Linked DNA regions of Homo sapiens. The protein of the gene in region 1 purifies or fractionates together with the protein of each later gene. This does not show direct contact. Each region holds a gene or a part of one and is shown on either strand. Other genes may lie near its edges. The genes, in order: NLRP1, FBXW8, ANP32B, DCAF4, ATP10A and CASP2.

Evidence for each region.
Region 2: the proteins of NLRP1 (region 1) and FBXW8 purify together in Homo sapiens (affinity purification with mass spectrometry, with the first as the bait; one study listed by BioGRID). This does not show direct contact.
Region 3: the proteins of NLRP1 (region 1) and ANP32B purify together in Homo sapiens (affinity purification with mass spectrometry, with the first as the bait; one study listed by BioGRID). This does not show direct contact.
Region 4: the proteins of NLRP1 (region 1) and DCAF4 purify together in Homo sapiens (co-immunoprecipitation; one large-scale study listed by IntAct). This does not show direct contact.
Region 5: the proteins of NLRP1 (region 1) and ATP10A purify together in Homo sapiens (affinity purification with mass spectrometry, with the first as the bait; one study listed by BioGRID). This does not show direct contact.
Region 6: the proteins of NLRP1 (region 1) and CASP2 purify together in Homo sapiens (affinity purification with western blotting, with the first as the bait; one study listed by BioGRID). This does not show direct contact.

The regions. Positions count from the first base shown.
Region 1 is NC_000017.11:5,581,134-5,586,404, reverse strand, and holds the start of NLRP1 (NACHT, LRR and PYD domains-containing protein 1), read left to right. Parts: upstream 1-1,895; 5' UTR 1,896-2,447; coding exon 2,448-2,718; intron 2,719-3,558; coding exon 3,559-3,735; intron 3,736-4,342; coding exon 4,343-4,546; intron 4,547-5,271.
Region 2 is NC_000012.12:117,018,398-117,023,148, reverse strand, and holds part of FBXW8 (F-box/WD repeat-containing protein 8), read right to left. Parts: intron 1-4,751. UniProt on the Homo sapiens protein: Substrate-recognition component of the Cul7-RING(FBXW8) ubiquitin ligase complex, which mediates the ubiquitination and subsequent proteasomal degradation of target proteins.
Region 3 is NC_000009.12:98,007,009-98,011,759, forward strand, and holds part of ANP32B (acidic leucine-rich nuclear phosphoprotein 32 family member B), read left to right. Parts: intron 1-4,262; coding exon 4,263-4,381; intron 4,382-4,751. UniProt on the Homo sapiens protein: Multifunctional protein that is involved in the regulation of many processes including cell proliferation, apoptosis, cell cycle progression or transcription.
Region 4 is NC_000014.9:72,950,021-72,954,771, forward strand, and holds part of DCAF4 (DDB1- and CUL4-associated factor 4), read left to right. Parts: intron 1-1,777; coding exon 1,778-1,857; intron 1,858-4,140; coding exon of another isoform or gene 4,141-4,143; coding exon 4,144-4,242; intron 4,243-4,365; coding exon 4,366-4,463; intron 4,464-4,751. UniProt on the Homo sapiens protein: May function as a substrate receptor for CUL4-DDB1 E3 ubiquitin-protein ligase complex.
Region 5 is NC_000015.10:25,860,440-25,865,801, reverse strand, and holds the start of ATP10A (phospholipid-transporting ATPase VA), read left to right. Parts: upstream 1-2,474; 5' UTR 2,475-2,705; coding exon 2,706-3,154; intron 3,155-3,492; exon of another isoform or gene 3,493-4,020; intron 4,021-5,362. UniProt on the Homo sapiens protein: Catalytic component of P4-ATPase flippase complex, which catalyzes the hydrolysis of ATP coupled to the transport of phosphatidylcholine (PC) from the outer to the inner leaflet of the plasma membrane.
Region 6 is NC_000007.14:143,297,464-143,302,214, forward strand, and holds part of CASP2 (caspase-2 isoform 1 preproprotein), read left to right. Parts: intron 1-1,053; exon of another isoform or gene 1,054-1,349; intron 1,350-2,459; coding exon 2,460-2,588; intron 2,589-2,740; coding exon 2,741-2,831; intron 2,832-2,916; coding exon of another isoform or gene 2,917-2,977; intron 2,978-4,751. UniProt on the Homo sapiens protein: Is a regulator of the cascade of caspases responsible for apoptosis execution. Might function by either activating some proteins required for cell death or inactivating proteins necessary for cell survival.

The DNA.
Region 1 (5,271 bases):
TGGTGGGAAGGGTCAGGTTTCTGATCTATTTAACAGGTTGAGTGGATCTCCAGCGGCCAGTGATTTAATGAATTATGCCTGTGAAGTGAAACCTCCGAGAAAACCCCACAGTCTTGTTTGTTTGGGGTTTGGAGAGCTTCCAGGTTAGTGAAGCAGGGAGGGGCAGGGAGAGTAGGGTGCCCGGGAGGGCAAGGAAGCGCTGTGCCCCTCCCCCACCCACACCTTGACCTCGGCATCTCTTCCGTTGGGCTATTCCTGAGTCGTATCCTCCATCATGAACCGATAATAATAAATAAAGTGCTTTTCTCAGTCCTGTGAGTCATTTCAGCAAATTATTGAACCTGCCGGGGACTGTGGGAACCCTTGAATTTGTCACCAAGTCAGACAGAGATGCCAGTGGTCTGGGCACCCCATTTGCAACTGGCATCTGATATGAGGCCAGCTCTTCACTGAAACCCTAAACCTGTGAGGTTTGATGCCAACTCCAGGCAGTCAGTGTCAGAATTGCACTGTAGGACACCAGTTGGTGTCTAGAGAGTTGGTGCCAGAACTGGCTGGTGTGAGGAGGAAAAAAAGCCCACACAGCCCTCCTCCAGGCCATTCCTCCCGCTACATGGAGTCTCACGGTCCTTCACGGAGTGCTCAGAGCCTCCCGATCATCCCACTTTTAGCACAGCACTTTTCCACTTCTGGTCAATCTGATATTAGAATGTCCTACAATGTGCTTATTAGCCATTTTTTAAAACTAACATTTATAAAATTTATTTAGGCCAGGCACGGAGGCTCACACCTGTAATCCCAACATTTCGGGAGGCCGAAGTGGGCGGATCACCTCGGATCAGACTGGCTAACATGGTGAAACCCCATCTCTACTAAAAATACAAAACAATTAGCCAGGCGTGGTGGTGAGTGACTGTAATCCCAACTGCCCAGGAAGCTGGGCTGATGCAGGAGAATCGCTGGAACCCAGGAGGTGGAGGGAGCTTGCAGTGAGCCGAGATCTTGCCACTGCACTCCAGCCTGGGAAAGAGAGAGAGACTCTAAGACCTTTTGCTGAATTGAAGCCTCTTGGTAAACCTATGATGTCCCATTTAATAGATGGGCAAACTGAGGCTCAAAGAAATAAATCAGGCACATAAGGAGTCCTTGTCCAAGCAAGCCGTGGGTTGAAGCCTGGGCTCTGCCAGTCCAAGTGAAACCAAAGCATCTCCAGAAATTCCTGGTGGTGTGTTACATCAGCAAATGAGTAGGCAATGTCATTCCTCAACCTGAAGTCATTGGCATCTTGCAGATTCCACGAAAGAGGAAGTCTGCCCCTGGCTCCCCGAGGCCTGCTTGCAGGAATGAGGAAGGGGCTGTTCTGCTTTCAGGTGGAAATGTTCACCAGCTAAGTGCTGGGCTGCCCAGAAGGCAAACAGCCCCCTGGGCCTGGGACACATGCTTTAGTGCCCCTGGTAGCATGGCAGGACATGCAGTGCAACTCAAGAAGCTCCCAAAACCATGAGAGGCTGGGAAAAATGCTCCCTGGCCCAGTTCTAATGTTTCCCAATAAGGAGCTGCCCGGGCAGACACAGGGGGCCCCACCCATCCTGAGAGGCTGGGCCTGGGCTGCAGACACAACTGCTCGGAGAGTCTGCATCCTGGCTCTGCAGACAGGCTCTAGATGATGGGCTGGCGGAGTGCCCATGTGGAGGTGCACACACCGTGTTTAGTATGGGCCTGTACCTGCTGCAGCGTCAGCTGGTCTGGGCCTGTGCTCCTGGTCCGCCTATAGATGCCATGTGGCCCATCTGAATCTGTGACTCTGAGTCTGGCCTACCCAGGCCTGGTTTGATCCTACCCCCTGGCCACGCCCCTTGTGGGTTTCCTCTGGGTGACGTTTCCTTCCTGCTCTTGTTGACTAGGCGCTGTTCTTGCTGGCTGGTGCCCCAGGGCCTGGAGAGGTCTGAAGAAACCTGGGAGCCAGCAGCCCGGGGCTCCACTCTGGGTTCTGAAAGCCCATTCCCTGCTCTGCGGCTCCTCCCACCCCACCTCTTCTCAGCCTTGCAGCTCAAGGGTTGATCTCAGGAGTCCAGGACCCAGGAGAGGGAAGAATCTGAGGAACACAGAACAGTGAGCGTTGCCCACACCCCATCTCCCGTCACCACATCTCCCCTCACCCTCACCCTCCCTGCCTGGCCCTGGACCCCATCCCAGGACCTCCCTATCAGCTGACTTCTTCCAGTGTCTTGCAGGCCCCTCTGGGCTCCTCCCTCCCCTGGCTTTTCCTACCACTCCCCCTCTATCGGCGTCTATCTGTAGGTGCCCTGGGATTTATAAAACTGGGTTCCGAATGCTGAATAAGAGACGGTAAGAGCCAAGGCAAAGGACAGCACTGTTCTCTGCCTGCCTGATACCCTCACCACCTGGGAACATCCCCCAGACACCCTCTTAACTCCGGGACAGAGATGGCTGGCGGAGCCTGGGGCCGCCTGGCCTGTTACTTGGAGTTCCTGAAGAAGGAGGAGCTGAAGGAGTTCCAGCTTCTGCTCGCCAATAAAGCGCACTCCAGGAGCTCTTCGGGTGAGACACCCGCTCAGCCAGAGAAGACGAGTGGCATGGAGGTGGCCTCGTACCTGGTGGCTCAGTATGGGGAGCAGCGGGCCTGGGACCTAGCCCTCCATACCTGGGAGCAGATGGGGCTGAGGTCACTGTGCGCCCAAGCCCAGGAAGGGGCAGGTGAGTGGACAGAGGACCCCACTGCCCGCGGGACATCCCCTGGCCCTCATGCCTGCCCTGCCCTCTTGGGACCCCACCACTGAGCCCTCCCTGCCAGGCCTTCCTCTGAGCAGTGACATGGAACTGCCCTCTCAAAGGGGGATCCAGGCCCCAGACTATGCTGGAGCCAGGAGGCTTGCTGGGGGGGCCCTTGCTGCACCTCAGAGCCCCACACCCTCTTCTATTCAAGTGCATTCCCGGTACTCGCCTGGCATTGTAGTTATGAGCACGGACTTGGGAGTCAGGCACTATCACCAGTCCTGGCACTATCACCCTGGGCCAATCACTTCACTGCTCTCTGCCTATTTCTCTGTCTGCAAAATGGGAGAGTGAGAGCCCGCCTCCCTGGGCTGTGTGAGGGTTAAAAGAGATCATCCAGGTTAAACATTTAGCACAGAGTCTGATATACAGTAAGTGCTCAATAAATAAGATCTCCCATTGCTGTTGTTGCTGCTGCTGCTGCTGCTGTTATTATTACTATTAGCCACCCTGGGTTGCAGATGCCGTTGGCCCAATAAAGCACAGCTGAGGCTCAGTAGGAGTAGTGATTTACACAGGGAGATAGTCAGGACCAAGACAGATATGCAAATTTCCTGATCCTAGATGAGGATTTTTTGCCTAGCAGTATCTATAAGAACATCATTCTTCAGACAAGCCTCTAGAGGAAGTTGTAGAGGGCTGCAGCGGGTTCACTGGTGTATCCTGACCTCTCTTGGTTGAGAGAGGAGACCAGCTCAGTTCCCTGGCACCTTGCCCCTGCCCCTCTGATGTGTCTCCAACCTCTTTGTCTCTTTCCTGTAGGCCACTCTCCCTCATTCCCCTACAGCCCAAGTGAACCCCACCTGGGGTCTCCCAGCCAACCCACCTCCACCGCAGTGCTAATGCCCTGGATCCATGAATTGCCGGCGGGGTGCACCCAGGGCTCAGAGAGAAGGGTTTTGAGACAGCTGCCTGACACATCTGGACGCCGCTGGAGAGGTGAGGCTTGCTGAGGCAGGCTGACAGCCCTGGGTGGAGCTGTGAATCAGCTGGTGGGCCCCACCCAGAGGATCATGTCTGTGCATGGGGACCTGACATGGGGGACAGCAGAGGAAGGATAGGGGAGCCAGGATGGGCTGTGAGAGGTAGGCCTGAAATTGATCTTTCAGGGACCTTCCGGTGCTGAGATTGCATCCCTCCCCATGTGGCAGATGGGGAAGCTGAGACCCATGTGGGTCAGGCAATGAGTCTTCCCCAACTGGGTGCCCAACTCGTGACATGGTCCTTGCCCGAGAACTCAGCTCATAATATTGATGGGCTCTGAAGATCCTTAGGGTCAGGGTGGTCCAGAAGTTCCAAGGAGGACTCTGTTTTCCAGACAGACCCCAAGAAGAGGCTAGGCTTAGTCCTCGGCCCAAGCCAGCTCCCTCACATGACTTCTCTCTTCACTACTAAGAGAATAAAATTGCCCCTCTACTTCAACATGGTTTTCAAAATAATATTATTAAGACCCATCTCTCAGGACTGTTGTGAGAGTTTAAAATATATGCACCTAAAAGAAAATAAATGTTCAGTAAATGGTTATTTTTCTTTTCATTCCCCCCAGAAATCTCTGCCTCACTCCTCTACCAAGCTCTTCCAAGCTCCCCAGACCATGAGTCTCCAAGCCAGGAGTCACCCAACGCCCCCACATCCACAGCAGTGCTGGGGAGCTGGGGATCCCCACCTCAGCCCAGCCTAGCACCCAGAGAGCAGGAGGCTCCTGGGACCCAATGGCCTCTGGATGAAACGTCAGGAATTTACTACACAGGTGAGACCCTACTGAGCTCCTGGCGGGGTGGTGAGGTGGGAGAGGCAAATGTATGGACAAAGAGTCCCCTGGGGACCAGGTTGGCAGGCTAAGCAGAGGTTCTGGAAAACATCTGAAATTTCCCTCAGGAAATCCCACCCTTGGAGCCTCTCCACTGGTCCAAGGCACTGTTTCCAGGAGGCACCTGGACATTAAAATACAGATGTGTTACCCAGCACATCTGGGGGACAACAGAGCAAGGAGAGGGGAGCCTGGATGGGGTTACACATCACCTGGTTTACTGGACAGGGCACTGGCCTGGGGTCAGGAGAGCTGGGTTCAATTTCCACTGAGCTCCTCACCCCACAAGTGGCCTACAGCTAGTCCCATGCCCATCAGTGCTCACTGGACACTCTCTGGGTTAGACCATGTCCAGGGCTTTACGTGTACATTGGACTTAAATTTTACAACCACTCCGTGAGATAAATATTGCTATTATCATACCCTGGAGATGAGAAAACCAAGGATTAAAAAGATAGTCTCACAGTTAGTACTAGCAAAGATGGAATTCAGCCTTCACTCTCTCTCACGCAGCAATCCACACTTTTAACTCTTACACAGGGAGTGCCCTCATCTGGGCAATAAGGACAGTCATACTAAAGCCACAGGTACAGAGGCTCCTGATGCCACAGGTTCCTTAACCACTGAACCATGCTGCCTCTCAATGCCGGAGGATGCCTCCTTTG
Region 2 (4,751 bases), on another chromosome or scaffold:
GTTCTGAGGGAAAATTATTTTGAACCAACAATTCTATACCTAGCTTAGCTACCAAGTGTGAAGGCATAATAAAGAAAGACTTCTTTTTCTTTAACAGAAAAGGACTCAAAGTGAACTACCTGTGGATACTCTCTGAAAGAAAGTGGCATAGCAAAATACCAGAACAAGAAGACAGATGGCTTAAGTGGGACCTGGTGTGTCTGCTGGGTCCATGGAGGCACACAGGACAAACCTTCCTATTAACAAGAAGAGCTGCCCATGGATCACAAAGTAAAAATATATGCTATGCATGAAAAACACATCTGTAAAGGAGGATGAAAAGATGTTGCAATTTTAATGCTAGAAAAGGCAGAGTAGTTCAAGGCAAAAGCATTCACTGAGAGCACTTAAAACAACGAAGGGGCAGTTTACTCAGTGTTCGGTCAGACCTGGAAAAACAAACTCCATGGATCACATTTCTTTTTATAGGTTTTGTTGTTTATTATTTTTTTTAAAGACAGGGCCTCACTCCCATCACCCAGGCTGGAGTGTAGTGGCACCATCATGGCTCACTGCAGCCTCAGCTTCCTGGGCTCAGGTGATCCTCCCACCTCAGCGTCCCGAATAGCTGGGACTACAAGCACGTGCTACCACACCAGGCTAATTTTTTTTTTATTTTCAGTAGAGACGGTTTTGCTGTGTTGCTCAGGCTGGTCTCGAACTCCTGGGCCAAGGGATCTACCCACCTCAGCCTCCTAAAGTGCCGGGATTACAGGCATGTGCCATTGCACCCAGCCTGTTTTTTTTTTTTTTTAATAGTTTCTTTAGTCACTATAATCTATTCAGAAATTATTTCTATTTCTTGAATTTTTAAAATCTCCAAATCTGAAAACTTAGATGAGTAAATGGCTTTCTGGGAAAATAAGAATTATCAAAACGAATCCCCAGGAGACAGAAAATCCAAGTAGATAAAATAACAAATAGCAGCCTGAGGAAGCCAGCAAGGGGCAACAATCCCTGCAAAAAAAGAACAAGTGACTTTGGCCAGACCTGTTAAGGACCAGCTGCCTCCAGGGCTAAGTTAACTGTTCCACAGCCTAGGAAAAGGAGGAAAGCTTCCAAATTCTCCATGAAGCCAGCATTCTATTACCAAAGCCTAACCCTGAGAGCATGATCAAAGAAAACTACATATCCGAGTGAAACATCAGGAACAGACTCCACAGCAAGATGCCACAGACAAGGGGAATCAACGAAAAACCAGGCAGTCACGTCCATGGAAGCCGAAAGCAACGGGATGAAACGTCACAGCCATTCCAGATGTGGTCTTTAGAAACAGTGAGGCACTGGCACCACCATTACTTCACATCGCTTTTTAAAAACCAGACACAATTAGACAAAAGGAAAAAATGAAAGGTTAAAAAAAATCGGAAAGAAGTGGGTAGACTTCTTATCAGTGAGAAGGGACAGTCCCAGAGAATTCAGTAACACAGAGTCAAATATAAATTTATATGCTAAAATCTAGTTTAAAAATAAATAGAATCAAAGAAAATGTCCCATTTGTAACAGCAGTTAGAGGCAAAATACTCTATAATAATTTTCTCAACTTGGAGCTCTATCAATCACATATATTACACAAATTACAGAGAGCGCAAAGAGTTAAACATAAACTATAAAACATATTCAAAGGAGGAAGACCTTTCTAAACATAACAAAATATGGAAGGTGAAAAAAGGGTTTAACTTTTTCCTATTGGGGGGAACAATCAGAAAGTCAGTCCAATGATAAACTGAGGAAAATGTTTGCAACAAAAAGGGCTAATGTCTTATAATAAATGCCTTCAAATTAGTAAAGACTGACAACCCATTATTAAATCGACAGAAAAGATAAGAAAAAGCAATTCACAGAAAAATACTAATGGCTTTTAAACATGTGTAAGATGTTTAAGTTTGCTGGTAATCAGATAAATTACACAGTAAAACTACAATGCAATGCCACTTGTCACCAATCTACCCAGCAAAGGTAAAGTTTGGTAACATGCCCTACGAGGCACTGTGTGGCAGGGAGACATGGACAGGTAGGTACTCCTAGACAGCTGAGGCGAGCAGAAATCCTTCTCTGGGGAGTGACTTGGCAATATCCAACCAAATACCACATGCACCTCACTTCTGAGCCGGCAATTCCACTTCGAGGAGGTAGCTACACAAGAGTCCACATACACGCAAGGCCAGTCACTGCTCTTAGTTGCAAAAGAGGCTTCTGTTTCAGACAACATGTTGACAGTTCCACTGTAAAACGCTTAAAAATGCTGGATAAAATCCTTTTAAGGGCACTGCTGAGCTCACGTAGGAAGTGACTTCCCCAGGACCTGAGCTGAAAACCAGACAGGAGAGGGTGAGCTGCGACTTCAGGGGAGGGGAGGCTGCTGGCAAGCGCCAGGCTCAGCTCCGTGGTTTCATCAAACACACTGAAGGGCCACCCTAGGCAGGGAGCGGAGTATGGAGACTCCTGCTTTCAATACAAAAGCATGAAAGTATAGTCCCTGAAATTAAATTTGGGAGATAGGCTGGAAGCAGATCAGAGAATGCGTGAATCAGAAGAAAAATGTGAAGAAATTACCAAGAATGGAGCACAAAGAGATAAATATGAAAACTGCGAATGGGGGTATAAGAGACATGAGGGACAGAAGGGGTGGTGCACCACACGCCCCAAGTTCCGGAAGGAGAAAAACAGAGTGCGGACAGCTAACAGCTGATGTTTCCCGAACTGATGAAAGACATGCATGCCGACTCAATGCACACGAATCAAACACAAAATACATATCTAAGAGTATAATTTAAAAAATGGGGAAACACAAAGACCAAGAGGTCCTAAAAGCAGCCTGAGAGAAAAAGACATTACCTATTAAGGAAAGATAATTAGACTGACAGGAAAAATCAGACACATTTTAGCTGTCATGAACTGGAATGACGTAGGTGACACGATTAACTAGCTCTTCAACTGAGTGCTAGTTAAAGCAATTATGGTACATCCATACAGTGGGACCCGGGGCAGAACTACACAGGCTGACTGGCAGCCGTGCGCACAGGTGTGTGCTGGGGGACATGCATTTAGGCTGTGCGTGTGTGGGCGGCCCCCAGAGAACGCTCAGCATTTAAGCAGTCGCAATGAGGGAGGCTGACAAGGCTGCTGGGAAGAGGGGTGCGCTTCGCCCTCTAGGCTACTCTGCTTTTGAGGCCCATTTTGAATGTGCGTACTTCCTGTTTAAATAAAACCAAACAATTTTAAAGATCAAATTCTGGAAGCACGTACTTGAAACATTAACAACAATTACCTTGGAGAAGAAAGAGGGCAATAAAGGCGGCTTTTGTGTTTTATTCTGGACGCTGCCATGTTTAAAAAACAAGAATTCATTCATGACCGGGAGGCCTTCAACAGTCACACTCTCTTTCTTGAGCTGAGAGGTGGATGCGCGGGCATTCTCGGTTACTCTTGAAACTGTATGCGCACCTTATATACACTCCCATACATATGTTCGGTTTCATAATTAAAAAATAATACTTTCATCTATTTCTTAGAAAAGGTGAAATAAAACAGGATGGAACAACACGTCGTTTTAGGACACAGAGGAGAGACTGTTTCTTCTTCCTGCTAGGCCATGTAACTGACAAGGCAACCCAAGTGAATAGATATACTCAACGCTGGGAAACAGGTAGCACAGCAAATGGGCACCAGAATATGCCAAGACAACCGATTCCAGGGACAAGTTGAGAGTTCTCTGTATAGAGAACATAAAATTCTATGTGGCCAACATTAACAAGCCCTTCGGACTGGCCACTGAACCTTTCTGGACCAGCATTAGATGGTCTTGAAGAGGTCTGCTAGATCCAAAATTCTGAGATCCATAACAAGTCCATCCAGTGGACACAGATGATAATGTATAGATGATACATAATAGGTCCGTTGCTACAAATGCTGCTCAGTCCCTGACTTGCCAGTGAGGGATCTGGGAGCAGAAAGATGCAGAGAGAGCTTGAAGATGACTTTGTAAACAAAGGTCTCTCTCTGTCACGTTTACAGACACCTATCCTTAGGCATGCGTAGGTAAGAGAAGAGAAAAAGTATAAATGCTGTAAAGAGAACTCTAACCTTAGTCCATAATGGGAACTTGAAAAGGATTGGGGAAAGGGGGAGCGGAAGTGTTTACCAAGTACTTTTCAGTGCATATTTGGTTAATCAGAGTCTATTCAGCTATGGTGATTTCCATAAAGAGCTCCTCTGTTGAATATTTATACTCCATAATTTACAGTTTGGCTGTTAAGGAGACAAAGGCAAACACAAATTTGGTCCAGAAGTTCAAAGTTTGCCATCTGTTTTCCTATTGTATTTAGATACCAGCATGGATGGCTCCAAACAAAATAAACAAATAAACCAAAAGATGCGGCCTCAGTGTATTTTATATCACTAAGGAAAAAAAAATAGGCCAAACCAGCCTTGAATTTCTCCCCCCTGGGAAAAAGGAAAAACATTTTTCTGACATCTCCTTAGAGAAGCACCACTCTGGCTTCTCGTCGACAGAAACAGCAGACAGCACAGTGTGCTAAGTCCACCCAAGCCATTCAGATTCACATGAAGAAACAGGTATCTGCCTCGGACATCTGACAGCGCGCAGCACAGGCCCGAATGCCGTGCGCCTTGGCAAAGCCCGTCGTCAGCTCAGCACTCAAACCAAATACTCGACGCTGGGAAACAGGTAGCACAGCAAATGGGCACCA
Region 3 (4,751 bases), on another chromosome or scaffold:
AAAACTGCTTCACCACTTGGAGACCAAGCACCCTGCGTTTAAAAGACAAGCCTTTGGAGTTTTTCAAAAGAAATAAACATGAACGTGAAAAACAGAGGCAATTATTGAAAGCTCCCACTTCATCAAATGTGACTGCACTGAGAACATCTCATTCTTAGTGGCTAACTGCATTGCTAAAGCTAAGAAGCCCTTAACTAACTGCATTGCTAAAGTAAGAAGCCCTTTACTATTGAAGAGTTGATCCTGCCTGCTGCTAAGGACATTTGTCATGAACTTTTAGGAGAGGCTGCAGTTAAGCTGCAGTTCAAAAGGTGGCACATGTTCCTCTTTGAGCTAGCACCATAACTAGATGAATTGATGACATAGTAGAGGATATTGAGGCATAGTTGTTAGAGAGGATTGATGAGTCACCGTGGTACACATTGCAGGTTGACAAGTCTGCCGATGTTGACAACATGGCAACAATGCTTGTTTTTGTGCAATATATTTTCAGGAGGATGTGCATGAGACTATGTTATGTGTACTTCGTTGCCAACCAGCACCACAGCTGCAGAACTATTCAAGTCTTTTGAACGATTACATATCAGGAAAACTGAATTGGTCATTTTGTGTCGTATATGCACAGATGGAGCGGCTGCCATGGCTGGACGGCTTTCTGGTTTCACTACTCGAGTCAGAGAGGTCGCTTCTGGATGTGAGTCTATGCACTGTGTCATCCATAGAGAAATGCTGGCTAGCTGACAAATGTCACCTGAACTTAACGTTTTGCAGGATGTGATTAAAATTAACCACATTAAAGTACATGCCCTTAACCCATGTCTGTTCACGCAGTTCTGTGAGATGGATGCAGAGAATACTTCTCTTACACAGAGAAGCGAGATGGCGTTCTAAAGGTGGATCACTGGCCAGAGTTTTTGAGTTAAGAGGCCTGCTCCAGAGATTTCTCTAAGAATAACAGTCACCACTAGCAGAACATTTTAGTAACACAGAATGAGTGGTAAAACTTTTTTTTTTAAGTTCAGGGGTACATGTGCACGTTTGTCGCAGAGATAAACGTGTACCATCCCATCACCTAAGTATTAAGCCCACTGTCCATTAGCTAGTTTTCCTGATGCTCTCCGTCCCCAGCCTCCACAGGCCCCAGTGTGTGTTGTTCCCCTCCATGTGTCCATGTATACTCATCATTCAGCCCCCACTTACAAGTGAGAACATACGATACTTAGTTTTCTGTTCTGAGCATTGGGATTTTTGACATGTTTCAAACAGTAGGAGTGATTTTTGAAAGAGAGTGAGCCAGGGCCTTCTTTCTCACAGCTGGTGCATGATCACCTATCTCAGCTCTCAAAAGAGTTTGAGCATTACTTCCCAACCACAAAAGACCCCCGAACTGGGAAGGAATGGATCCACAACCCATTTATGAATAAGCCAGGTCAATCGACTTTGTTCATGCTTGAAGAGGATCAACTGGTTGAGATCACAAATGGCAGTGGCCTTAAAAGTATGGTTTGAGACAACTTCAAAATCTCCATATATTCTGGATTAAAGTCGAGGTGGAATATCCTGAGATTGCCAAAAAAGCACTGAAAAACCTGCTTCCATTTCCAATATCCTATCTTTGTGAAGCAAAGTTTTCTGCAGTGACAGCAACCAAAACAAGATTATGGAGTATACTGGACATAAGCAGCACACACTTCGAATGTCACTGTCTCTCATTGCCCCCAGATGGGACTGTCTAGTTGCAGGGAAAACAAGCTCAGGGTTCCCATTGATTCCACATTATGATGAGTTGTATAATTATATCATTATATATTACAATGTAATAATAGAAATAAAGTGCAGAATAAACATAATGCGTTTGAATCATCCTGAAACCATCCCCCCACCCCCAGGCTGTGGAAACATTGTCTTCCACAAAACTGGTCCCTGGTGCCAAAAAGGTTGAGGACCGCTGTCCTACTGCACTACAGTCATCATCTTGGGTAGATACTTATCTCCTGATTCACAGGGCCTGACACTGAGTAGGTACTTGGTACCTGTTTGTTATTGCCAGCTATAAATAAAATAGCTTTCCCTTCCATTGACATATGACCAGAGTTTTAAAAGGTAATGATTTCAAATAACTATATGTTAGATTCCGTTTTTCATTCATAAGGGAAATAATCTCTGATCATAACATAGAATTAAAAGATGATTTTCAGTAGTTTTGGCATTTGACCCAGGATTTATACATATTTTACAGATTTACAGATTTTAAGAAATAACTAATACTTTCTACCCAAGATATTCCTCCTGATTAGTTTGTGTTTTCTTTGCATGCTGAGTTTGTTTATTCTCAGTCACTCTTAGAATAAAACGCTTCTCACGTACAGGTGGCTTAGAGCAGCAGTCTCCAACCTTTTTGGCACCAGGGACTGGTTTCATGGAAGACAGTTTTTCCACAGATGCAGGGAAGGGGTTGGGGGCGGCAGCTGAATGGTTTTGGGATGAAACGGTTCCACCTTAGATCAGGCATTAGATTCTCATAAGGAATGCACAGTCCAGATCCCTCACATGCGCAGTTCACAATAGAATTTGCACTCCTATGAGGATCTAACAGGTGATGTGACAGGAGGCGGAGTTCACGTGGTAATGGTCACTGGCCTGCTCTTCACCACCTGCTGTGCGGCCCAGGCCACAGACCAGTACCAGTCCTGGGAGTTGGGAACCCCTGGTTTGGAGGAAGCAGAATGATTAGTTTTCACATCAGTCAGCATGAGTATTTCTTTTCTTTAAAAATTAGCACATATGACAGAAATTATCAAGAAAATAGAGGAGGAAAAGCATCAAGGAGTTTGGGTGCAGTTAATGGTATAATTCTCTGGAAGCATTTTTACAGTTTTATTTTGAAGCATATTGAGACAGGCAAAAATTAATGAGTTATAAGGTGGTAAAATGGACAGAGAATAGGACATCTCACTTATTTCCAAATGTTATGTCCCTTTGTCCCTTCTACAGTTTTTCCATTTTTCCTAAAAACCATTTGTGCTTGTTGTCTATTTAAGTTCACCTCAAACAGGAAGAACAGCCACATGTGCAAGAGCCAGTAAAGGACATTCCTTGGAAGGTGGGGGGCAGTTCCTGAGAGCAAAGATGGGTCAGCCAACAAATACTTGAGCATTTCCTATGTGCCAGGCACTGCGGAAAATAGTGGTTTAAAAAAAAAAGGAACAAAAAAACAAGGTTCCTACCCTCTTGGACCTTACAGAGAAATGGTGTTTTTTTTTTTTTGTTTTTTTTTTTTAAATCATAAATAGGCTAGGTATGGTGGCTCACACTTGTAATCCCAACACTTGGGGAGGGTGAGGCAGGATGATTGCTGGAATCCAGGAGTTCAAGACCAGCCTGGGCAACATAGACAAACCCTATCTGTACAGAAAAAATTGTTTTAAATTAAGAATTCTAAATAATAATTGCAAGTAAGCAAAGTGTGTTGTAATGGAGAAGCACCACATACTCATGGTGAGAGCCTATGACCTGGCATTGGGAGGTCTGGTGAGTAAGACTGCCTAAGGAAGTGATGTTGACTGAGACTCCAAGGTGGAGTCAGAGTTAGCCAAGCAAAGAGGATGGAAAGAGCATGCAGAGACCAGGAGGCAGGTGAGAGCATGGTGTGCTCTAGGACCCAGGAGAAGCAAGAACTGCCGCACTAGAGGTCCGAACAACCAGCTAGAGATGCAGGTGCCTCTCAGCCTCCTGTCCCCTGAGTCACAGGGTTATTATGGGTGTTTCTCAGGTTCCTGATTTGAGCAGCTGACTGTGACTCTGGTAATGATACCCAAGAGAAGGTACATGATTTTTTTTTTTTTAACTTTTTACTGTCAAAAATTTCAGACAGTGACAAAGGGTAAAAATAATAGCAAAATGAACCCCCATGTTCTTATCACTCAGCTTCAGCAATTATTGGTCATAGCTGATCTTATTTTATTCCTGCATACCCTTACCTTCTTCCCCACTCCATATAATTTTGAAGCAAATCTTAGCCATTGTATCATTTCATCAGCGAGAATTATAGTGTTTGTCTTATCTACCAGGACTTCTAGCTCTCTGATTTTATGGGACTCTATCGGACAAAGGGACTGAGCTGTAGCACATAGTAGAAAGAAAGTGACTGCAGTTCGTGGCCTTACAGCATTTGTTCTGTGAGCCAGCCCACAGATCCTCAACACTTTGTCCCCTGTGGAGCGTCGAGGATATTTAATGAATCCCTTTTGGACTATTTTTAGAAGGAGAAGATGAGGAAGACGAGGACGATGAGGATGGTGAAGAAGAGGAGTTTGATGAAGAAGATGATGAAGATGAAGATGTAGAAGGGGATGAGGACGACGATGAAGTCAGTGAGGAGGTCAGTGCAGCTGTTTTCTACCCTGCTTCCTATTTGTAATTACAACAAAAGTGGGGGTTTCAAAAAGATGACAAAAGAAAAGAAAAAACACCTTTTGAAGAAATTAGTATACCTGTGAATACATTTACAATATGAATCTGGTTAATTTAGTGTTTGTCTGGCTTTAAATAACTACTAAATAGAATGCCTACTGAACTCAAACTAGTACGGTTCCTGGCTGTGCAAGGTAAGTTCTGGCCCTCTGGGGGAAGGAATGAATTGAGTATTCAGTGTGGTGAGAAAACTGGACATGTTGAGAATTGATGGTATGTCTGTTCCTTCATTGAATTGTAGGGAAGTTTATGTTTACCAAGTCTAAACTTTTTCTTGT
Region 4 (4,751 bases), on another chromosome or scaffold:
AGTTGGGAGAAAGCTTGGTATGTTTGGCAGCAGTTTGATATTCATGATGTCTCTGGCTAGGGAGCAGGGCCTTTCAAGACTGAATGCTCGCTCAGGGCTGTGGGAGGTCCCAGGGGGTTGTGATTGTGGAGTCATTTTTGAAAATGATTCCTTTGGTGGCATTGTTGGGGGATAGACGGACGAGAGCAAGTCCTCAGACAGAAGCTGCTGCAAGACTAAGGGCGGTGGTGAGGGCGTGAAACGAGGTATCAGGAGTGGAGGGAAGGGCACCAAGAGGCAGGTGCAGGCTCTAGCCCGGGCATCTTGTGATAGGAGAAGGCCAGGATAGACCTCCCAGAGAGTGGTGGGTTGAGGCCAAGGAGTGTGTAGTAGAAATTGGGCTACATGGCCATAGGGCAGAACTGGAATGTTTCCATCAGATTTAGAAACCAGAGGCTCATTGAAGACTGATGAGAACATTTCTCTGGGAAGGTGAGGGTCAGGCCTGGATTTCAGTGGAGGAAAGGCAAGGGAATGAGAATAAATACAGGCTCCTCTGGAACAAAGTTTGGCTATGAGGGGAAAAGGAGAGGAACCGCGTCAGTCAAAAGACACACACGTAGGCAAGGGTATAAAGGGGCAGGTCAGAGAGGGAACTCCAACGACTATGCTCATGTGAACAGAGACACCCACATGTAGTCAGGGAAATGCAAATTTAAATAACAGTGAGGTATCACCTGGTACCCATTCAGATAAGCAGAAATTTTAAGGGCTGGTAGTGAGATATTCCATGCAATGCCATTTCTGTATGTTTTTTTTTAAACAAAAGCTGCTTTGTGTTATTTATTGACAAATATATGTAGTGGAAATACAGCATGGCTTAGAAGAACTTACACCAATTTGAGAAGAGCAGTTCTCTCTGAGTAGAGGAGAAGGGAGAATTGGACTAGGGAGGGATCAGAGAGGGCTTTTTGGGCTTTTTAATAGTATTTTATTTTTGAGACATGGTCTTACTCTGTCACCCAGGCTGGAGTGCGGTCACATGATCACAGCTCACCGCAGCCTTGACTTCCAAGGCTCAAGCAATCCTCCCACCTCAGCCTCCCAAGGAGCTGGTACTACAGGCACACACCACCACGCCCAGCTAGTTTTTGTATTTTTTGTAGAGACAAGGTTTTGCTGTGTTTCCCAGGCTGGTCTCGAACTCCTGGACTCGAGTGATCCTCCTGCCTCAGCTTCCCAAAGTGCTGGGATTACATAGGCAGGAGCCACCACACCCAGCTTTTAACTATATCTGATTTGTTTTTCCCTTTAAAAAACATCTGAAGCTGGCCAGTCACGATGGCTCACCCCTATAATCCCAGCACTTTGGGAGGCCGAGGCGGGCGGATCACGTGAGGTCGGGTGTTCGAGACGAGTCTGACCAACTTGGAGAAACCCCGTCTCTACTAAAAATACAAAATTACCCGGGCGTGGTGGCACATGCCTGTAATCCCAGCTACTCAGGAAGCCGAGGCAGGAGAATCGCTTGAACCTGGGAGGCAGAGGTTGCGGTAAGCCGAGATCGCGCCATTGCACCCCAGCCTGGGCAACAAGAGCGAAACTCCGTCTCAAAAACAAACAAACAAAAAAAAAACATCTGAAGGTAAATGTGGGCAGTGTAAACGCATGTTGAATCTGGACGGTGGGGGTTACTCTGGCCTAGGTTGTGTGCCGTATGACTTTCTGAAGGGTAAATGTCCATGCCTCCTCCCAGAGGGGAGCCTTGTGCCTAACTGTCCTTAACAGCTTTTTCCAGGCTATGCCTCATGGGACTCGCAGAGACTCCAGGCTGTGCCACCCTGCTCCCAGCATCACTGTTCGTCAATAGTCACCCAGGTACAGGGTTCTCCTCCTTTAAAGAAATCTGTCCTCTGTCTCCCGAGAGCTGTGTGGGGGTGGCTTAGAGAGAAGTATGGGGCCGCTGCAGAGGCACTGTGGGAGGATTCCCTAAGCCTGTCCCAGGGTTAGTACCAGAAGCATGTGTTTTTTTTACAGCATCTGCCCCTTTTTACCCATCTTGGGCCATTTCAGTCATTTCAGCAGCCAGAGCAGACTTAACACGCATGTAAACCAGCGTGAGCTCAGAACAGATTCGGACGCCCGTGCACATCATTCAGAAAACACCTCTGAAGGTCCAAAGCACCTCAGGTGCTATCAGGGATACTTAACAGTCTGCCTACGTTAAGGCAATTTGACTCCTCCTTCCTGACAGCATTCTGGATATTACATTTCAGTCTATCAGAAAATTAGGATCAATAAGACCAGGGTGAGAGGCCTCTTAAGAGTGTGGGCTTCAGGCAGACCTGGCACGAATCCCAGCTCTGCCCCTTGCCAACTTGAATGGAATGTTGAACCTCTCTAAAGTGGACAGGGCCTTCTCAGTCCACATCCGTGGAGAATTAGGTGAGATCATGCACATTTAGCCCAGTGCCTGGTATTTCATTGCACAGCAAGCTTATGAGGCAGGAGTGTGTCTTACCACCATTTTACAGATAAGGAAACTGAGGCAGACAGTTTCAGAATTTGTCTTACAAAAGTAATTTTTAGTGTTGGAGGTCAGGCTCACAGTACCCTTTGGGGAGGTAGTAATTGGGAAAGGGATGTGAGGGAGGCCTCTGGGGTACTGGATTGTTTTATGTCTTGTCTTGTCTTTTTTTTTTTTTTTTTTTTGAGACGGAGTTTTGCTCTTATTGCCCAGGCTGGAGTGCAATGGCACGATCTCAGCTCACCACAACCTCCGCCTCCCAGGTTCAAGCAATGCTCCTGCCTCAGCCTCCCAAGTAGCTGAGATCACAGGCGCACACCACCACGCCCGGCTAATTTTTGTATTTTTAGTAGAGACGGGATTTCACCATGTTGGTTAGGCTGGTCTCGAACTCCTGACCTCGTGATCCACCTGCCTCGGCCTCCCAAAGTGCTGGGATTACAGGTGTGAGCCACAATGCCCGGCCTTTTTTTTTTTTTTTTTTTTTTTTTGAGATGGAGTTTCACTCTTGTTGCCCAGGCTGGAGTGCAATGACACGATCTCAGTTCACCGCAACCTCCGCCTCTGGGGCTCAAGCGATTCTCCTGCCTCAGCCTCCCAAGTAGCCAGGATTACAGGCATGTACCACCACACCCGGCTGATTTTTGTATTTTTAGTAGAGATGGGATTCTCCATGTTGGTCAGGCTGGTCTCGAACTCCCGACCTCAGGTGATCCACCCGCTTCGGCCTCCTAAAGTGCTGGGATTACAGGCGTGAGCCACCACGCCTGGCATGGATTGTTTTATTTCTTAACCTGGGTGGTGGGTACATGGCTATATTTAGTTTGTGATAACTCACTGAACTGTATCCTTACAATCTGTACGTTCTATCAATGCAAAAGTTTATTTTAAAAAATATTTTTTCGAAGCACAGTGGCTCATGCCTGTAATCTCAACACTTTGGGAGGCCAAGGCAGGATAATCGTTTGAGCCCAGGAGTTCAAGACCAGCCTGAGCAACATAGCAAGACTCCAATCTCTACAAAAAATAAATAATTAGCCATGTGTGGTGGCTCACACCTGTGATCCCAGCTACTTGGGAGGCTGAGATGGGAGGATTCCTTGAGCCTGGGAGGTTGAGGATGCATTGAGCCATGATCACGCCACTGCACTCCAGACTGGGCAAAAGAACAAGACCCTGTCTTAAAAAAAAAAAAAAAAAAAAAAAATATATATATATATATATATATATATATATAGTTTATTTATTTATTTATTTGTGTGTGTGTGTGTGTGTGTGTGTGTGTGTGTGTGTGTGTGTGTGTATATACACACACACTTGCCTGAGATCACATAGCTGGTAGGTGATCGAGGATCGGAGCCACCTTACCTCCAACAGTATACTACCTCCCTGATATCAGTACTATTCGTACTGTAAACACGACTACTGGGAACGTTAACAAAGATGCATTTTCGGAATAACCACTTGTGAGCCAGGCATCCCAGCTGAGTCTCTCTTGCAACCACAAAACCCAGAATGGGGCCAAAGGTATAGACCCTCTGAGCAGCTATGGGCATATTTGGATGTTTTCCGAACCCAGTGGTCCCTGGCCTGCCTAGAAGGCAGCCACACTTTACATTCTCCTATCCCCTTAGCAGGAATAGACCGGCCTGGCATGCTCTGCAGTTTCCGGATCCCTGGTGCCTGGTCCTGTGCCTGGTCCCTGAATATCCAAGCAAATAACTGCTTCAGTACAGGTGAGCCTGGCTCCCCAGGTGCCCAGAGAAGAGGCCTTAACAGGCCTTAAAACCCCATGTAGTTGTCCCTCTCCCCAGACTACATGTGACATAATCTTACCAGCCCATCTCTGTCTCCGCCAGGCTTGTCTCGGCGGGTCCTGTTGACCAACGTGGTGACGGGACACCGGCAGTCCTTTGGGACCAACAGTGATGTCTTGGCCCAGCAGTTTGCTCTCATGGTTGGTTGGATTGGGACAGGCAGAATATAAAAGTTTGCCCCATGTAGAAATTTGGCCAGATTGAAATTGGACTCCTCTGTGTGCCATCTAGTACTCTTTGACAGGGGAGAAAGAGCATCAGAAAGGATCAGTGGGTTCCTTTGTAAGGGTGTCTGAGCCGAGTGAAAGTTGGTTGATCCAGAAAGGCTGGCCTGAGTTGCTCTACACAACCTCTCATGGAAAGGTATTGTGAGCAGTTCTTGGGTACTTGGATTTACCCAGTAGGACAAACCATTTTTAAAATGTATA
Region 5 (5,362 bases), on another chromosome or scaffold:
TCTCCTTCTTTGGGACCTTTTGACAGAGCTGCCCCCTCTGTCTGGAAGCCTCTTCCACCTGATCTTGTCCCATTCAGGTTTCAACTCCAGTGCCTCTCTTCGAAAAGGCCATCCCTCATCCCTTCCAAAGCCCTCCGTGGGCTCTCATGGTTTTTCGTTCAGTTGCTGCAGCTCCATGACAACATCTTGTCCTCTCTAGCTCTCCGATGAATTCCTGTGCCTGGAACATTGCCGGGCATACAGCAGGGGATGAGTAAGTATTTGCCGAACAAGGACACTTACAGTGGTTCTCATGGCCTATAGCAGGCCCTTGTTAGAGCCCTGTGGTGCAGATGGCCAACCCAGAGTTGACCAGACCACATCAGAGCCTCATCCTCGCCCCAGCAGGCCAGGGTCTCAGAGTCCAGCTGGCAGAAGACACCTGAGCTCAAAACCCCTCCACGATTCCCCAGATCACACAGCTTGGAGACCTTTCCAGAGGTGAGCTGAGCTAGGCCTTCCTGGAAATCCTGACTTTGCACTGGGGAAGAGCAGGTGGAAAAAGATTCCAGACTTGAGGAGCATTGTGACTCACAGAATCTTGGAACCTTAGAGCGGAATGTGGATGGGATGAGTAAGGACTGTTCTGAGAAGGATAAGGAGACCTCTCACCTTGGGGCTGGGCCTGAACCAGGGAGGGGCTGAAGAAAATCAGCAAGCTGGTTCCCCTCAGGGCCTCAAGGGACCTCTGCCTGAGGAATCAGCATTTGGCTTTGTAAGCACCAGGAGTACTCCTGGAAGCTCCAGGGTAAGCAAATGGAATGAGGCGGTAATTACTTTGGCAACAGTGTGGACTGGCTGAAGCTGGGAGTCTGGTAGGCGCGGACACCCCTGGAGACTTTGGGCGAAGGGTCCACGGGGATGCCTGTGAAGACAGGAGGCCGAAGTGTAGGGAGGCCGAAGGCCTCGGGGGTCACCAGGTGGGCTGGTAGAGGAAAACACGGAGCCATGGGATGTGAGGCCTCAAGACTGCAGGCGCTGTGGGCCTTCATTTGCAGTTGATGCTCCGTTTGGGTTTCTGCTGGTTGACTGTGAGACCTGACTCCTTTCCCCAACAATGCAGACTTCAGCCAAACCTTTCCCTGATCTGGGCCTCTACATGTCAAAAGCCCACCCCTGTGACTGGGGGATGGGATTATTTTCTTCACACCTGTCACCACTCTACCTTCTAACACTGGGTTCTGGGCAACATTGTGGATGGTGGCAAAACTGGGCAGAGATGTAAGAATGTCATAACTGGAGCCGGGTAAGCCAGGGTGCTGGAGGGGAGGGCCTCCCCAAGCCAGGGTCCTGGCGAAGACGTGATTTGAGTCCATCCAGGGCAGTGCCTTGTTAGCAGGCACCCCCAGGAAGAGCCTGGGGCCACGGCCAACCGCCCAGCCACGGCCTCCTGGGCAAGAAATAACTGCTTCTCATCTCTGTACTTCTTGAGTGGGAGGCAAACAGTCACAGCCATGAAACATCTGTGGGGTCTCACTGCGGACGTGGGGGACTCCCAGCTCCTTTTTCCATGCCGTGCTTATTCTCCCACCCCTTCTCGGATGCCCCATGATGTGGAGGGGAGCCCTTCGCCCCACACTTCTGGGACACCCTCCTGACGCTCCCCTCTCCTCCCCACAACCATCCTCGCCTCCCCACAACCATCCTCGCCTCCCCCGCCGTCCGGGCCATGACAGCCACCTCAGAGCTACAGCGCACAAGGAGCGTTTCGGTCCTCATGATTTCCCAGGGAGGGAAACAGACACTCAAATACCTGCAAACCAAATTCTGTCTTTGCTATAGCGATATATTTCTCCTTTCCATGAAGAAAGAACAGAAAAAAGAAAAAGAATTTATTTAGGAGAGGAAGGAAAGGCAGTAATGATGATGGTGGAAAGGAAACGGTCTAGTTCGCCCAACAACGGAATCTGAAAGTGGTGGGGGCTGGGAAGTGGGGTAGGAAAGAAGTTCTTAGAGGCAACGCGGAATCGCCCTTCCCAGGGCTCCCCAGGAGCAGAGGTCCTGCGTAAAAAAGACTTAAAAATTGGAGCACTGGATGCCATGGATCCTTTGGATTTTGATTCCAGTTGATCCCTGGAGTAAGGTCCTAACCGGGGTCTCCCGAGGTCGTTTCGCCGTCCAGGATGGAGCAGGTCTGGCCCCTGGAAGGGCGCGCGGGCTGCTTGGGGACGGGGGCGCCTTTTCTCGCGCTTCGCGGTTTCCTCTCTCCTACTGCAGGCAGCGCGCGTTTGCAGCGTTTTGGGACCGAACTGATGCTTCTGGGAAACGAAACTAAACCTCTCTGAAGTTTCCAGCTCGGGCTTTTTTTGTTTCCCGCTATCCGGCGTGGCCCAGTCCGGGCGCGGAACGAGGGCGGGGCCGTGGCCACCGCGGCGGAAACGACCCGGGCCGGGGGCGGGCGGCGAGGACAAGGGGGCTCTGTGCGGCACCCGCCCAGCTTGCGCCCTGGGGACTGCGGCCGGGCGGCGGGGCTGGACGGGAGTGGACGGGGCTGGGCGCGGGCTGGGCGCGCTGGGCCGGCCAGGCGGCGCGCTGACCGCGGTCTCCGTGCGTCCCGCAGGCGGGGAGCTCGCACCGCCGCGCCCGGGCCGCGAGTGATGATAACCTAAGAGGCCGGCGCGGGCGGGCGTGAGCGGCGGAGGAGCCGGGCGCGGCGACACGCGGCCATGGAGCGGGAGCCGGCGGGGACCGAGGAGCCCGGGCCTCCGGGACGGCGGAGGCGCCGAGAGGGCAGGACGCGCACGGTGCGCTCCAACCTGCTGCCGCCCCCGGGCGCCGAGGACCCTGCGGCTGGCGCGGCCAAGGGCGAGCGGCGACGGCGGCGCGGGTGTGCCCAGCACCTGGCCGACAACCGGCTCAAGACTACCAAGTACACGCTGCTGTCCTTCCTGCCCAAGAACCTGTTCGAGCAGTTCCACCGCCCGGCCAACGTGTACTTTGTCTTCATCGCGCTGCTCAACTTCGTGCCGGCGGTGAACGCCTTCCAGCCCGGCCTGGCACTGGCGCCGGTGCTCTTCATCCTGGCCATCACGGCCTTCAGGGACCTGTGGGAGGACTACAGCCGCCACCGCTCCGACCACAAGATCAACCACCTGGGCTGCCTGGTCTTCAGCAGGTGAGTTGGGCGGGCGGGCGAGCGAGCGCGCGGTGGCGCAGGGCAGGGCGCCCCGGGAACTTGGTGTTGGGCACAGTGATTGGCAGGGGCTGGGTGCTTAGAAGGCAGCTCCACTCAGGGTGGAGGGCCCGGCTGCGCGGGACCCGGTGCCGACCGAAGCCACAGCGCCGCCAAGGCCTCTCTGTGCCTCCGCCGCAGCTAAAGGGGCGCCCTGGATGCGGGGACGCGTGGGGATCCCCTGTCACTCCGTGTCGGGGCCAGAATGATCCCAAGGCTAGAAACCGACGGCCGCTGGACATCCTCATCCACAGCCGCTCCCACCTGAAGTGAAAGGCAGGAAAAGCCAGCCTGGCCCCCTGGCCTGAAGTCCCTGCCTCAGTCTTCGGCCAGGCACAGTGGTCTCTGAACAGCCGGCACAGGACAGTAAAGCTCAGTCTGCTAACAGCTCGGCTCAGGACAGCAGCAAAGTGAAACTGCCGCCAAGTGCTGATATGTCTGGCACGGCCCAGGTACCAGGGCAGGGGAAATAACAGCAGTGTCCATCCTCCACTGTGAGCCATGAGCCGCGAGCCAGGCACCGCCCGGTAGCTGCCTGCCTAATTTTCTTCATCTTAACCTGCTTCCTGGGGGAAAGAGGCTGTGGGGTGTTTGTGAGCCCTGCCACGGGCAGTACCAGGGGTGACCCTGCGATGGACCACTCCTGCTCTTTTTCCCTCCCTGAGTTTTAGAGTCTCCGGCGGACCTGTCCAGAGGCCTGCGGCCTTTTCATCCTTTATGCTCTCCACCCCAGGAGAGCCCCTTGGTAGATCCATCTTGGAGCTGTGTCCAGCAGCCTGGACCACCTCAAGGCCCTGTCCCTGAGAAAGGTGGGTCGTCTTAGCTTTCCTCCAAAGCTCAGCCCATCGTTACCTCCTGCCTCACCTTGCTTGACCCCGGAACAGGGACTGAGATGGGCTTCTGAATAGAACATTAGCGGTATCTGGCTTCCATTATGCATGGGGAGACTCTAGGAAGCCCTATGCTCTCTTAGTGGCAGATTGTTCCCCTAAAAGAGGAGGGTCAGAGTGGCTCCTGCCTCTTAAACGTAGGCATTCACGAATGCCTTAGACACAGGCACTCATAGCTTGGATGAAGCCATGGATGCGTGCCTCTGTAGTTGAGTACCTTTCACCCTCCCAGCAACACTGCAGTGGTTATGCTCCATATTTTTGTAAACAGAGTAAACGGGTTCAGAGAGGTTAAGTAAACCTGCCCAGTGTCACACAGCAGCAAGGTCGTGGTACTGGGATTTGACCCAGGTCTTCCCGCCCGCACAGCTTTTTGAATATTTCTTTGCTCGTGCTTCTGAAACTTTTGTAAGAGTCACTGAAGGCGCTTGTTAAAATTACAGTTTTCCAAAGTGTCTCACTCAGCAGGCCTGGGATTGAGCCCAGGAATGTATTAGATTAGCGTGCACGTAACTCTTATATGATGGCCCACACTTTCAGAAACACCACTCTGCCTGCTCCCAAGCCTTGCTCTTTGGCCAGTCAGCAAGAGTGACTGTCATTAGACCGGGCTGTGGGATTTCCTGGCCCCTGTTCACCAGAAGCCTGAGCAGGGACAAGAGCGGCACCCCTTACACAAATGGCCTCCGTGTCCCCTGAGCGAGGCCTCCACCACATAGCCCTGGTGGGGCTCAACAGTTTTAAGCCTTTGCACAGATACCACTTCCTGTTATTACTGAGCCCGTAACTCCTGTAGCCTCCTTTTTAGAAATACTTATGCCTCAGGAGAAATACAGTTTATTTTCAGTTGGCAAAGTGCTTTGAATCCATTATGTCATTCGATCCTTATAGTAACTATCACACCCATCTTGCCGATGAGGAAACTGAGGTTGGGATCTAAAAGCTATTCTCTTGTCTCTGTGACCTTGTAAGGCTTCATGGGACTTTGAAACTTTAGCTTCCATTTGGACTACACCCATCTACGTTCCCCTCCCCTTCCACTCTGCCCTTGACTCCAGATATCTTAACTCTCCCTCAGACTCTGTCTTCTTCCTTACTGAAGGAACTGTCAGCATTTTTCATTCACTTCCCAGCTGCCTTGAGGACAGTGGGCGCAATGCCCTACTTCTGTTTATTGTTCCCTGGGAAGGCAGGTCAAATTCTTCCAGTCCCAGAAAGGCTGGAAGAGGTGGTGCCAGGCCCTGGGAATAGAAGGAGGAGG
Region 6 (4,751 bases), on another chromosome or scaffold:
GAGATGGAGTTTCACTTTTGTTGCCCAGGCTAGAGTGCAATGGCGCGATCTGGGCTCATTGCAACCTCTGCCTCCCAGGTTCAAGCAATTCTCCTGTCTCAGCCTCCTGAGTAGCTGGGATTACAGGCGCATGCCACCACGCCCGGCTAATTTTTGTATTTTTAGTAGAGACAGGGTTTCATCACATTGGTCAGGCTGGTCTCAAACTCCTGACCTCAGGTGATCCACCCGCCTCGGCCTCCCGAAGTGCTGGGATTACAGGCGTGAGCCACCGCGCCCGGCCTTTGTTTTCTTCTTTGAGCAAAATTAACTTCTTTAACTATTAAATGTTAAATTCTATTAGCATCAGCTCCAGAGGAACATTCACAGTTATGTATTCTCTTGAAATTATATATTCTTGAAAGAATTTTTTGATTATCTGTCATTACCTTAAGATTTCTATTATTATGGTTTGCTTCTACTTAGAAAATACAGATACTTTTCAACAACACCAGTCTCTTTATTTCTAGTTATATTGCAGACTTTCAAATATTTTATGTAATTGCATCTCAATTATCTACAAACAGAAGTATTCCGAACAGATCAATTAGTAGCTCTCAAACTTTAACATATCACAGTGTCCTGGAGGGCTTGTTAAAACACATTTTGCTGGAGCCCAAGATTTCACGTTTCTTCCAAGTTCCTGGGTGATGCTGCTGTTGCTGCTTTAGGGGCCACTCTGAGAACTACTGCAATATGTTATATTATAGAAGTGTGCTTTTTATTTTGGCAGTGTGTGTGATTAAATATATGTGTGTTTTAACTCTTCCACCCAGATAACTTACTTATTTTCATTACATTTTATTCAAGTTTATAATAAAATGAACTTGTTTTCTTTCTGCCCATCTCAGAAGACCCAGACATCGTGAATTATAGAGGGAGGCATAGGTTTAAACATGTGTGCCCAATTATTATGCTCTTTAGGTACACAGTATAACCTTCTGATGGATGGACCAAATGCTTAAGGTAGTGCTCTTCATGTATCGCAACTTAGTGCAAGATAAACAAGATTCTCCAGGCATGGTGGCACATGCCTATGGTCCCAGCTACTCTAGAGGCTGAGGCAAGAAGATTCCTTGAGCCCAGGAGTTCTAGGCTGTAGTGTGCTATGCTGATCAGGTGTCCAAACTAAGTTCATCATCAATATGGTAACCTCCTGGGAGTGGCGGACCACCAGGTTGCCTAAGGAGGGGTGTACCAGCCCAGGTCAGAAATGGAGCAGGTGAAAACTCCTGTGCTGATCAGTAGTGATCTTACACCTGTAAATAGTCACTGCACTCAAGCCTGGGCAATATAGCAAGATCCTGTCTAAAAAAAAAAAAGATAAACAGGAAAACAGTTCTTAAGTTGGACTACAACATTGACCAGTAATAGATTTCTTTGAGAAAAATACTCTTTATTCGACATGCACATTGTAATGGCACATTTTTTGCAATGTGTCCCAGACACAGTGATCGGTTTTTGGTTTTTTTTTTGAGACAGGGTCTCTCTCTGTCACCCAGGCTACAGTGCAGTGGTGCAGTCACAGCTCACTGCAGCCTCAACTTCCTAGGCTCCAGTGATCCCTCCACCGTAGCCTTTAGAGTAGCTGGGACTATAAGCATGCACCACCATGCCTGGCTAATTTTTTTTTTTAAAGATGGAGTCTTGCTAGGTTGTCCAGGCCAAGTCCTTTGTCATAATATCTCATTTTTATCTTCACAAACTTAGAGAAAATATCCTCATAATTTTTTTTTATAAAGTGAAAAGTGAGGTCTCAAGGGTCTGAGTAAGCTGTTCCAACTCATGAAGCCAAGGTTCAAACCTAGATTAATCTGAACCCAGGACCTGTGTATGTAATTACTGCCCTGTACAGAATCCTCCTTCATAGCGTGCTCTTTCTGAAACAAAGCATTTTATACAGTCATCATCATTATCTCTTGGACACTTAGAATCTTAGAAGACAACATACAAGTATTGCTATTCTCTACTATCATGATGCTGTCACAGAACAGTTTATTTTCGTGTAGCTGAATGTGCATGTTACTTATTCATAGCTACACTTTGAGTCACCCTTGTGCCATTTATATACAAGGGCAGTTGCTCTAATGAAGGATCTGGTTATGAACAGGGAATTAATCAGAGTTGACCAGCTCATGATTAGCTTCTTTAGTAACTTGCTTTAATCCAGGAGCTGTTTGCCTATCTCAGTGAGTCTGAATCTGTATTCAGAATATTGTGTCTGAACTCATATGCATTTTTCTGGTGAGTCCATAGCTTTCTTTAGTCTCTCAAAAGGTCTCTTCTTTTATCATTGACCACAGGAATATACATAAAGCGTTTTATCTTCTAATAGCTTAGGGTTTCAAAAAGAAACCAAACTTTGATGCTTATGTTGGTGCTGACCTTAGTGCACAACACTAAACATTCCTTTCTTTTAGGAAATGCAAGAGAAACTGCAGAATTTTGCACAGTTACCTGCACACCGAGTCACGGACTCCTGCATCGTGGCACTCCTCTCGCATGGTGTGGAGGGCGCCATCTATGGTGTGGATGGGAAACTGCTCCAGGTGCGGATACCCTGGTGGAAGCCAACTGTTGAAACCAGGCTGCTTTACCTCCTGCCTGCTGTCTGTCAAGTGATGGCTACTGTTGCATGTGTAGGACTTAGGAGGCCCCGCTGAATGCTTAACCTCTCTTCTTCCTTCTTTCTTTCTGGCAGCTCCAAGAGGTTTTTCAGCTCTTTGACAACGCCAACTGCCCAAGCCTACAGAACAAACCAAAAATGTTCTTCATCCAGGCCTGCCGTGGAGGTGAGTGCCCTAGCAGACCAGCACCTGGGTGGTGGCTCCTGGGCAGCCTCCCACCAGCTCTCACTTTCCTGTTTGCTCCTCTCAGGTGCTATTGGATCCCTTGGGCACCTCCTTCTGTTCACTGCTGCCACCGCCTCTCTTGCTCTGTAAGTGTCTCCCAATGCATGGGGTGTGCTGGGACTTGGGCAGCCCATGGCTCTCAGGCTGGTCAGCTCTCCGTGCACCACCATATCCTGTTTTCAGGTCTCTTATCCCGTGTCTTTGCCTTCCTTTCTGAGAACTCTTACTCTTTTCTGTGCTTCATTAACTCTGGTGCCCTTTTTTTGGTTACTCATTCCAGTTACGGATTTTTGATCTGTCTTTTTCCTGTCCTTCTTATTTTATCTCCTTTCTTTCACTCTTTGTTCTTTTCACTTGTTCCATATACTTCCCTGTTTACCTACACTTCCATGCTTGCCTCCTTTCTTCTTTCTTCTTACCATTCTTGGGTCATGCAGGATAGCAGAACAGAATCCGTGTTGGCCTTTGACTCTTCCTTTTCCGTGAGCTGCTGCTGCCCCTCTTTCTCTCATGCAGTCTGTTTTACTCCTTTAAGAGCCAGGACTGCAGGACGAGGATTAAAAGACACATAGGTGTGCTTCTCATCCTGGAGGAAAATAATAGTAATTAAGAGCCCTAACTTTGGAGTCAAATTCTGACTTCACCATTTACTAGTAACGTGAAGTTAAAGAAGTTAAATGGCATCCCTCCATCTCAGTTTCCTCAATATAAAATGAAAATAGTCCTTGTACCTACTTCATAAGGTGCTTGTGATGGTTAAATGAGATTATGCATTTAAGGGCTTACATAGCTCAGTACCTGGCTCACAGCACATCCACAAAATATGCCAGCTGTAACTCTTAAAACACGATCAGTGCCGTAAAGGGCTTATAGTTTGCTTTAAAGGTCACTTTGTCCAAACATTCAAATAATTACTTTTTTAATCTCTCATGTGGCCAAATGTAAATAGCTAATATTATTGTCATCCTGATCTAGTATTACCGCAGAATATAGTCTGCTGAGGCCCTGCAACATGACTCAGACTACGGCAGTTACTACCGCAAAAGCAGAAGGAAATGTGGCCTCTCTAAGGAGCAGACCAGTTACTCAGGAAAATAAAGTAAATATACATGAAGTAGCTTAAGACTAGTTCACAGGCCTCATGTAAGCAAAGGTGAAATTAGCAAGGTACAAACTGTACTTAGGAAGGAGTATGCAGTAAGAGTAGATCATTTTAAGTGAGGGTAGTTTAAAGAGATTTTTTAGATAAGATAAGGCTTAATTTGTACCTGGAGTAATTTGATTTACATAGTTATAGAGTAGTATCTAGAGTCTGTCGTAGGAAAGAAACAATACAATATGATAAGTACACTGAGAGGCAGAGGGCATGTTGTGTCTCCCCTCCTCCCAAACAGATGCTCGGATCTGATTTTAAAATAGCATCTGTGTGAGTATGTGAGATGTGGCTGGTCACAATGAAGTGGGTTCACCTCCTTACAAACCTTTAGTCATAACTGAGGTTTTGGACATCAGCAGGTAAAAGTAAGGAACAGTTGGGAGCTTAAGTAAGAAATAATGTGATGAATTGTTTTTCCAGCAAGGTTGCCATGGAGGGGGCTGCACTAAGGAAAGAGGTTATGGGTCAGCAACTTTACTTTTCATTCCCTGCTCTATCCCCAGGCCCAGGGCACTGCCTGATGCATGGTAGCACTTATAAATGTTCAATGAATGGATGAAAATTAATCTGCCTGAAAAACTGTAGGTATTATGTAAAAAACAAATATGAGGATATTGTGACAAAAGAACCAGTGACATTTATTGATTGATGGATCTGTGATATAAAGGTGAGAGAGGAATTCTCCTTTCTCTTTAGCTTGGCCT